Linked DNA regions of Homo sapiens: all the other regions are linked to region 3. Evidence: fine-mapped expression QTL. A gene starts in region 3. Each other region holds a variant in brackets. All regions are shown on one strand. Distances are from middle to middle.

Region 1 (2,764 bases), 94 kb after region 3:
CCCGTCTCTACTAAAAATACAAAAAGAATTAGCCAGGCATGGTGGCGGTCACCTATAGTCCTAGCTACTCAGGAGGCTAAGGCAGGAGAATGGTGTGAACCCGGGAGGCAGAGCTTGCAGTGAGCCGAGATCACGCCACCGCATCCAGCCTGGGCAACAGTGCGAGACTCCGTCTCAAAAAAAAAGAAAAAAAAGTAGATGTAGTCCTGAACACAAAGGAACTTAACATCTACATAGACGCTAAGGTCCTATCATACACAATAAATAAGACAGTTTGTTTAAATTATACAGTATGAACTCTAAGTATAGAGAATTAGAAATTAACATGGCTGAAGTCAAGGTACGATTAAATATTTTTCATTGACCATGACCAAAACAGTAGCAAGTACATTAAAATGGAAGTTACCTCCTGATAGCCACTTTCCAAGCTTGGGGTAGCCATGGGACAGTTCTGGCCAATGAGAACTAAGTAAGAATCTGCTGAGGGATTCCTAGGAAAAAATTTTCTTTCCTGAAAACAGCTATAGCCCTTATTCCTGCCCTTTCCCTTTATCCTTCTTCTTGCCTTGAAGGCAAGCTGGAGCTATGGCAGTCATCTGGTATACATGAGTAGATGGCCAAGAGAACAATAAACATAGGGCTTAACATCAATGAGCTAATGACTATTAAAGATCAAATATCAGCTACTATATACCTCTAGACTTCTGGTGTTTTTTACAATTTTCCATGACCTGCTAAAAAGACTTCTTATACTAAAAAAAAATAGGCCAGGCACGGTAGCTCACACCTGTAATCCCAACACTTTGGAAGGCCAAGGCAGGCGGATCACCTGAGGTCAGGAGTTCGAGACCAGCCTCACCAACATGGTGAAACCCTGTCTCTAATAAAAATATAAAAATTAGCCAGGTGTGGTGGCAGGTGCCTGTAATCCCAGCTACTCGGGAGGCTGAGGCAGGAGAATCACTTGAACCCAGGAGGCGAAGGTTGCAGTGAGCTGAGATTGCGCCATTGCACTCCAGCCTGGGTGACAAGAGTGAGACTTCATCTCAGAAAATAATAATAATTATTGTATAAACCATTATAGCCACATTTTCTGTCACCTGTAGTCAAAAGCAATTCCAACTAACAGAAGTCCAGAATGCCCTCTCTGGCATTTACCACATGTATATGACAATAGGCAAGTCACTAATTCTCTGCCTACCTTCTTACCATAATCAAATAAGAAGCTACTTCAAGTGCTATGAAATACACTATTGTAAGGTATTATCACTGCTGATACCTTTCCTCTCCTTGACCACATTTCTATTCAAAGGATTTTTAGTGAAAGATTCCATGGTACTGACAGTGGTTAAAAACCCCTTGCTGCAAGGAGGAAATTTTCCTTTTCTTGTGAACAAATATGCTAGAAGACATGGGAAAATCTTGGATTCCCATGATCTTAATGCCTAACTCAGGTCACTGGGAA[G/C]GCTTCCCAGGCATGAATGTAATGAAGACGACTAAAGCTGGGGGAAGGAAGAGGCAGGAATGTAACATGCAGCAACCCCACTTAGCCTCAAAACCATGATTCCACCAAAGCATGATGCTGAAAACTACCTGGAAAGTGTTCAAATTTAACCCTTCACATCCTTTTTTTCTTTCTTTTTCATCTCTGTTTTTTAAAGAATCTAGCCTGTTGCTCAGGCTAGACTCGAACTCCTGGGCCCAAAGGATCCTCCCTCCTCAACCCCTCCTAAGTAGCTGGGCATGGTGGTGTGTGCCTGTAGTCCCAGCTAATCAGGAGGCTGAGGTGGGAGGATCATTTGAGTCCAGGAGTTTGAGGCCACAGTGACCCACGATTGCACCACTGCACTCTAACGTGGGCAACAGAGTGAGACTCTGTCTCTTAAAAGACAACAACAACAACAACAACAAAATAGTTAAGCAGTATTTATTTCCCTAGATCTATGTTTGCAGCCCAAAAGAAACTGAGCTTTCTCAAATTTTTATTAAATATTCATGACAAGCAATGATTGTCTAATCTCTTGATTTAAGGAAATAATCCTTCCCATTTACGTGGCCTATAAATTGACTATTAACTTACCCAAATGTTACATATTCTCTTTCTAATATTTCTATATAGAACTACCAACCTGGCCAACATGGTGAAACCCCATCTTTCTACTAAAAATACAAAAATTAGCTGAGTTTGGTGGCACATGCCTGTAATCCCAGCTACTCGGGAGGCTGAGGCAGGAGAATCGCTTGAATGCAGGAGGCAGAGGTTGCAGTGAGCCGAGATCATGCCACTGCACTCCAGTGTGAGACTCCGTCTCATAAATAAATAAATAAATAAATAAATAAATAAATAAATAAATAGCCGGGCACGGTGGCTCACACCTGTAATCCCAGCACTTTGGGAGGCCAAGGCGGGCGGATCGCCTGAGGTCAGGAGTTCGAGACCAGCCTCAAAATGGAGAAACCCTGTCTCTACTAAAAATATAAAATTAGCCAGGTGTGGTGGTGCATGCCTGTAATCCCAGCTACTTGGGAGACTGAGGCAGGAGAATTGCTTGAACCTGGGGGGTGGAGGTTGCAGTGAGCCAAGATCGCACCATCGCACTCCAGCCGGGGCAACAAGAGCGAAACTCCGTCTCAAAAAAAAAAAAGAAATCGAGACCATCCTGGCCAACATGGTGAAACCCTGTCTCTACTAAAAACACAAAATTAGCTGGGCATCGTGGCATGCGCCTGTAGTCCCAGCTACTCGGGAGGCAGAGGCAGGAGA
Region 2 (2,764 bases), 83 kb after region 3:
AGGTTTCAGAGCACAGAATTTCAATGGGGATAAAGAAGATCATTTCAAACTGTTAAAGTGGGGCCAGGCACAGTGGCTCAACCTGTAATCCCAGAACTTTGGAAGGCTGAGGTGGGTGGAGCACTTGAGCCCAGGAGTTCAAAACCAGCCTAGGCAACATGGCAAAATTCTGTCTCTACAAAAAATACAAAAACTAGCTAGGCATGGTAGTGGCATCTGTGGTCCCAGCTACTCAAGAGGCTGAGGTAAGAGGATCACCTGTGCCCAGGAGGTAGAGGCTGCAGTGAGGCGTGATTGCTCCACTGCAGTCCAGCCTGGGTGACAGAGTGAGACCCTGTCTCAAAAATATATACATATACATGTATGTGTACATGTATGTACACATACATGTATATGTACATATATACACACATACATGTATATTAGATGTATGTACATATATATATGCTTGTGTGTATATATATGTGTGTATGTGTGTGTGTATATATATGTATATAATTTTTTGTTTTTGAGATGGAGTCTTGCTCTATCGCCCAGGCTGGAGTACAGTGGCATGATCTTGGCTCACTGCAGCCTCCGCCTCCCAGGTTTCAGCGATTCTCCTACCTCAGCCTCCCGAGTAGCTGGGACTACAGGTGCGCACCACCACACCCGGCTAATTTTTGTATTTTTCAGTAGAGACAGGGTTTCACCATATTGGCCAGGCTGGTCTCGAACTCCTGACCTTGTGATCCGCCCACCTCAGCCTCCCAAAGTGCTGGGATTACAGGCATGAGGTATCACGTCCAGCCAAAAAAAAAAAAAAAATTAAATTTAAATTAAATTAAATTTAAATTAAATTAAAGTGGCCAATTCATCAACGTGACATAACAATCCTAAACATTTATGCATCTAATAGTAGCTTCAAACTATATGAAGCAAAAATTATAAAGATAAAGAGACAAATCCATAATTACAGTCTGAGATTTCACTACCTCTCTCTCTAATTGATGGAACAAATGGAAAGAAAAATTAGTAAGAATACAACAGCCATAAATAATGTATAAGCAGGACAGGCGCAGTAGCTCACGCCTGTAATCCCAGCACTTTCAGAGGCCGAGGCAGGTAGATCACCTGAGGTCAGGAGTTCGAGACCAGCCTGGCCAAAATGGTGAAACTCCATCTCTATTAAAAATACAAAAATTATCTAGGGGTGGTGGCAGATGCCTGTAATCCCAGCTACTCCAGAGGCTGAGGCAGGAGAATCACTTGAACCCGGGGGGCGGAGGTTGCAGTAAGCCAAGATCGCACCACTGCACTCCAGCCTGGGCAACAAGAGTGAGACTCTGTCTCAAGAAAAAAAACC[T/C]AAAATTCACATGGAACCACAAAAGACCCCATATAGCCAAACCAATCCTATGCAAAGAGAACAAAGCTGAAGGCATCAAATTACCAGCCTTCAAAATACATTACAAAGCTATAGTAACCATAACAGCATGGTACTGGCATAAAAACAGACACACAGACAAATGGAATAGGATAGAGAACCCAGGAAAAAATCCACGTATTTATAGCCAACTGATTTTTGACAACAGCACCAAGAACATTCCTTGGTGGAGGGACAGTCTTTTCAATAAATGGTGCTAGCTTTGGGAGGCTGAAGTGGTAGGATTGTTTAAGCCCAGGAATTCTGAGACAAGCCTAGGCAATAGAGTAAGACCTCATCTCTAAAATAAAATTTAAATTTGAAAAATCAAAAAATGGTGCTGATCAAACTAGATATTTAAATGCAGAAAAATGAAACTAGACATCTATTTCTTACCATATACAAAAATCAACTCAAAATGGATTAAAGACTAATATGTAAGACCTTAAACTATGAAACAACTAAAAACATAGGGGAGGCCGAGGGCGGTGGTTCATGACTCTAATCCCAGCACTTTGGGAGGCCGAGGTGGGAGGATCACTTGAAGTCAGGAGTTCAAGACCAGCCTGACCGACATCACGAAACCCCATCTCTACTAAAAATACAAAAATTAGCTGGGTGTGGTGGTGCGCGCCTGTAGTCACAACTACTTGGGAGGTTGGGGCAGGAGGATCACTTGAACCCGGGAGGCGGAGGTTGCAGTGAGCCGAGATCGTACTACTGCACTCCAGCCTGGGCAACAGAGTGAGACTCTGTCTCAAAAATAAATAAATAAAGTAATAAAATAAAAACATAGGTGAAATACTTTAGGACACGGTTCTGGGCAAAGATCCTATGAACATGACCTCAAAAGTATAGGCAACAAAAGCAAAAGTAGACAAATGGGATTATATTAAATTTAAAACTTTCTGCACAGCAGAGGAAACAATCAACAGAGTGAAGAGACAACTAAAGAATGGGAGAAAATACGTGCTAACTATTCATTCAAGAAGGGACTAATATCCAGAATACACAAGGAACTCAAATAACTCAACAGCCGGACAAATGAGCTGAACAGACATCTCTCAAAAGAACACATACAAATGGCAAACAGGTATGTGAAAAAATGCTCAACATCACTAATCATCAGGGAAATGCAAATTAAAAATCACAATGAGATATCCTTTCATCCCAGTTAGAATGGACACTATGAAAAATATTAAAAATTTCTCTGCATCCCTGAGGATGCAGAGAAAGGAGAACTCTTATATATTGTTAGTAGTAAAGTCAATTAGTACAGCTATTATGGAAAACAGTATGGAGGCTCCTCAAAAAATTAAAAATATAATTACCATATGATCCAGCAATCCCCCTACTGGGTAT
Region 3 (2,764 bases):
TAAGTGTAGGGTTGGGGAGGTGAGCTGGCCTGGTACAGAGTGGGTGAGCAGTGACTTGGGAGTGGGAGAGCAGAGAGGATGCCGTCCCCTCCTCCAGAAGGCCTGACTGTTCTGGGCCTGACTCTCTGGACCTCCCGACCCCAGGCTGCAGCTGGGGTAGCCTCAGTTCAGAGTGACAATCCGCAGCCATGTTCATATCCCTACTCCATACTAGGCTCTTGATGAGGGTGCTGCATTCTGTGTAAGGGGAACCTGTTGCCTCCCCACCATGGCCTGGACAGCTGAGGAGTCACCAGCTCCATGTTAGAGATGGGGAAACTGAGGCTCAGCCAAGGTCTTGAGGTGCCTCTTGGGAGGGAGAATGTCTCTCCCCAGATAGCTGTCCTTCCCACACCAGTCACTAGGGGGCGACAGGGATGCAGCAGAACTGAATTTCATGGGCTCTCCTTACCATCCTAGGTGCCCCTCCCTGCAGACACCCCAGAGCTAGGAGGATGGGGTAGGAGTGGTGTGGCCCCAAGGCCTCTGCACCGCAGGAGAAGGCAGTAGACCACAGGCCTGGGAGAAGAGGGAAAAGCAGGAGTAGAGGTAGGGATTAGAGAAGCCCCTGGGGCTTCTCTCACTCTAGGGGGACTGGGCTCAGGCCCTGCCTCTCTCTCCTCTCTCTCTCTCTCTCTCTCTCTCTCTCTCTCTATTCATTCCTTTCACTCCTTGTGTTTGCACCTGTGTCTCTCAGTATCTCCTTTCTCTCTGGCTTTGTGGATTTCCTTGTTTCTGCCTGCTCAGTGATTCTCACTTTCTCCGTATACTACGTGTGTGTGTGTGTGTGTGTGTGTGTGTGTCTGTGTCTGTGTCTCTGTGTTTCTGTGTGTGTATGTCTCTGTGTGTCTGTGTATGTGCTTGTGTGTGTGTCTGTGTGTATGCCTATGTGTCTGTGTGTGTCTGTCTCTGTGTATATGTGTGTGTGTGCTTATGTCTGTGTGTGTGTGTCTGTGTGTGTGTCTGTGTCTGTGTGTCTCTGTGTGTCTGTACGTGTATGTCTGTGTGTCTCTGTGTGTCTGTACGTGTATGTCTGTGTGTCTCTCTGTGAGTGTCTGAGAGGCTCTGGGTGTCTCTGTCCGTTGTGTCTGCCTCTGTCTTATCTTTGTCTCTCCCTCTTTCTCCCTCTTGTGATGTCTCTACCTCTCTCTGTCTCTATCTCTTTTTTCCCTGTCTCTGTTTCATATGTTTCTGCCTCTGTCTCATTTTGTTTTTGTCTCTGTCCCGCTCAGTTTCACATCCTGTCCCTCCCCAGCCACCACCACCCAGCACACGTGGGCTGAGGGTCTCAGTCCCTTCCTTCCCAACTCCTCATCCCTGGCAGCTGCTCGGCTTCCCACTACTGGCCTCTCCTGCCCGCCTCTTTTGGGCCTTGTGGGAGTGGGGCGAGGGAGGAGGGGAGGATGGCTCAGCAGACCCACCCCTTTTTGCCTTTCCAGGCTGGGAGGCTGGGCCAGTGGACCTTTTAACCAGCCTGGGCAGGCTATTCCGGACGCCAGCCCTGGAAGCTGAGCCTGACCCAGCAGGTCCCAGCAGCCTGGCAGCCCGGCCAGCATGCAGCAGCAGCCTCTGCCCGGGCCTGGCGCCCCCACAACTGAGCCAACCAAGCCTCCCTACAGCTACATCGCCCTTATTGCTATGGCCATCCAGAGCTCACCGGGGCAGCGGGCCACCCTCAGTGGCATCTACCGCTACATCATGGGCCGATTCGCCTTCTACCGCCACAACCGGCCCGGCTGGCAGAACAGCATCCGCCACAACCTGTCACTCAACGAGTGCTTTGTCAAGGTGCCCCGCGATGACCGCAAGCCAGGCAAGGGCAGCTACTGGACGCTGGACCCTGACTGCCACGACATGTTTGAGCACGGCAGCTTCCTACGCCGCCGCCGCCGCTTCACCCGGCAGACAGGTGCTGAGGGCACCCGGGGCCCCGCCAAGGCACGCCGTGGACCCCTCAGGGCGACCAGCCAGGACCCAGGAGTCCCCAACGCCACGACCGGCAGGCAGTGCTCATTCCCACCAGAGCTGCCAGATCCCAAGGGCCTAAGCTTTGGGGGTCTGGTGGGGGCCATGCCAGCCAGTATGTGCCCAGCAACCACTGATGGCAGGCCTCGGCCACCCATGGAGCCCAAAGAGATTTCCACGCCCAAGCCTGCATGCCCAGGGGAGCTCCCCGTGGCCACCTCATCTTCCTCATGCCCAGCGTTTGGCTTTCCTGCCGGCTTCTCAGAGGCTGAGAGTTTTAATAAGGCCCCTACGCCCGTCTTGTCCCCGGAATCAGGCATCGGGAGCAGCTACCAGTGTCGGCTGCAGGCACTGAATTTTTGCATGGGGGCTGACCCAGGCCTTGAGCACCTCTTGGCCTCAGCAGCCCCCTCCCCTGCACCACCCACCCCTCCAGGCTCACTCCGGGCCCCACTGCCCCTGCCAACTGACCACAAGGAACCCTGGGTTGCAGGTGGCTTCCCTGTCCAGGGAGGCTCCGGCTACCCATTGGGGCTGACCCCCTGCCTATACCGGACGCCAGGAATGTTCTTCTTTGAGTAAAGGCAGCCTCACCTCGGGCAGTCCCTGCAGGTCCCTCACCCTCCGGGCTGAGCCTGGCTCTAGGACCTGAAGAACTCTCGAAGGACCCAGCCCTGGTGAGCCAAGGACAACCACACAGAAAGCCAGGATTGAAGCGGTGCTCAGCCAGGCCCCTGGGGCCTCCGGACAAACTTGGGGG

Direction of the effects. Alleles are on the strand shown, and positions count from the first base shown. SD is a standard deviation of normalised expression in the study named.
With allele C in place of G in region 1, the expression in subcutaneous fat of the gene that starts at base 1,532 in region 3 is higher (small effect, 0.17 SD a copy in GTEx).
As copies of C replace T in region 2, the expression in nucleus accumbens of the gene that starts at base 1,532 in region 3 goes up (small effect, 0.35 SD a copy in GTEx).

Evidence for each region. PIP is the estimated chance that this variant, and not a neighbour inherited with it, causes the effect.
Region 1: its variant is fine-mapped to the expression of FOXS1 in subcutaneous fat (GTEx, PIP above 0.99).
Region 2: its variant is fine-mapped to the expression of FOXS1 in nucleus accumbens (GTEx, PIP 0.95).

What each region holds. Positions count from the first base shown.
Region 1 is chr20:31,750,044-31,752,807 of GRCh38, reverse strand. The region is part of intron 2 of TPX2 (TPX2 microtubule nucleation factor); the gene reads right to left. Among named protein-coding and RNA genes, the nearest start is that of TPX2, 12 kb to the right of the region's middle. The variant G/C (reference allele first, on the strand shown) is at 1,466.
Region 2 is chr20:31,761,765-31,764,528 of GRCh38, reverse strand. All of the region lies in intron 4 of TPX2 (TPX2 microtubule nucleation factor), which reads right to left. Among named protein-coding and RNA genes, the nearest start is that of TPX2, 24 kb to the right of the region's middle. The variant T/C (reference allele first, on the strand shown) is at 1,346.
Region 3 is chr20:31,844,372-31,847,135 of GRCh38, reverse strand. It overlaps FOXS1 (forkhead box S1), which reads left to right and starts at 1,532. Exons shown (of 1, transcript NM_004118.4): 1 at 1,532-2,764. The coding sequence starts at 1,594. The coding sequence ends at 2,586. It also overlaps a transcript of DUSP15 not described here. RefSeq lists an enhancer at 1,591-2,148.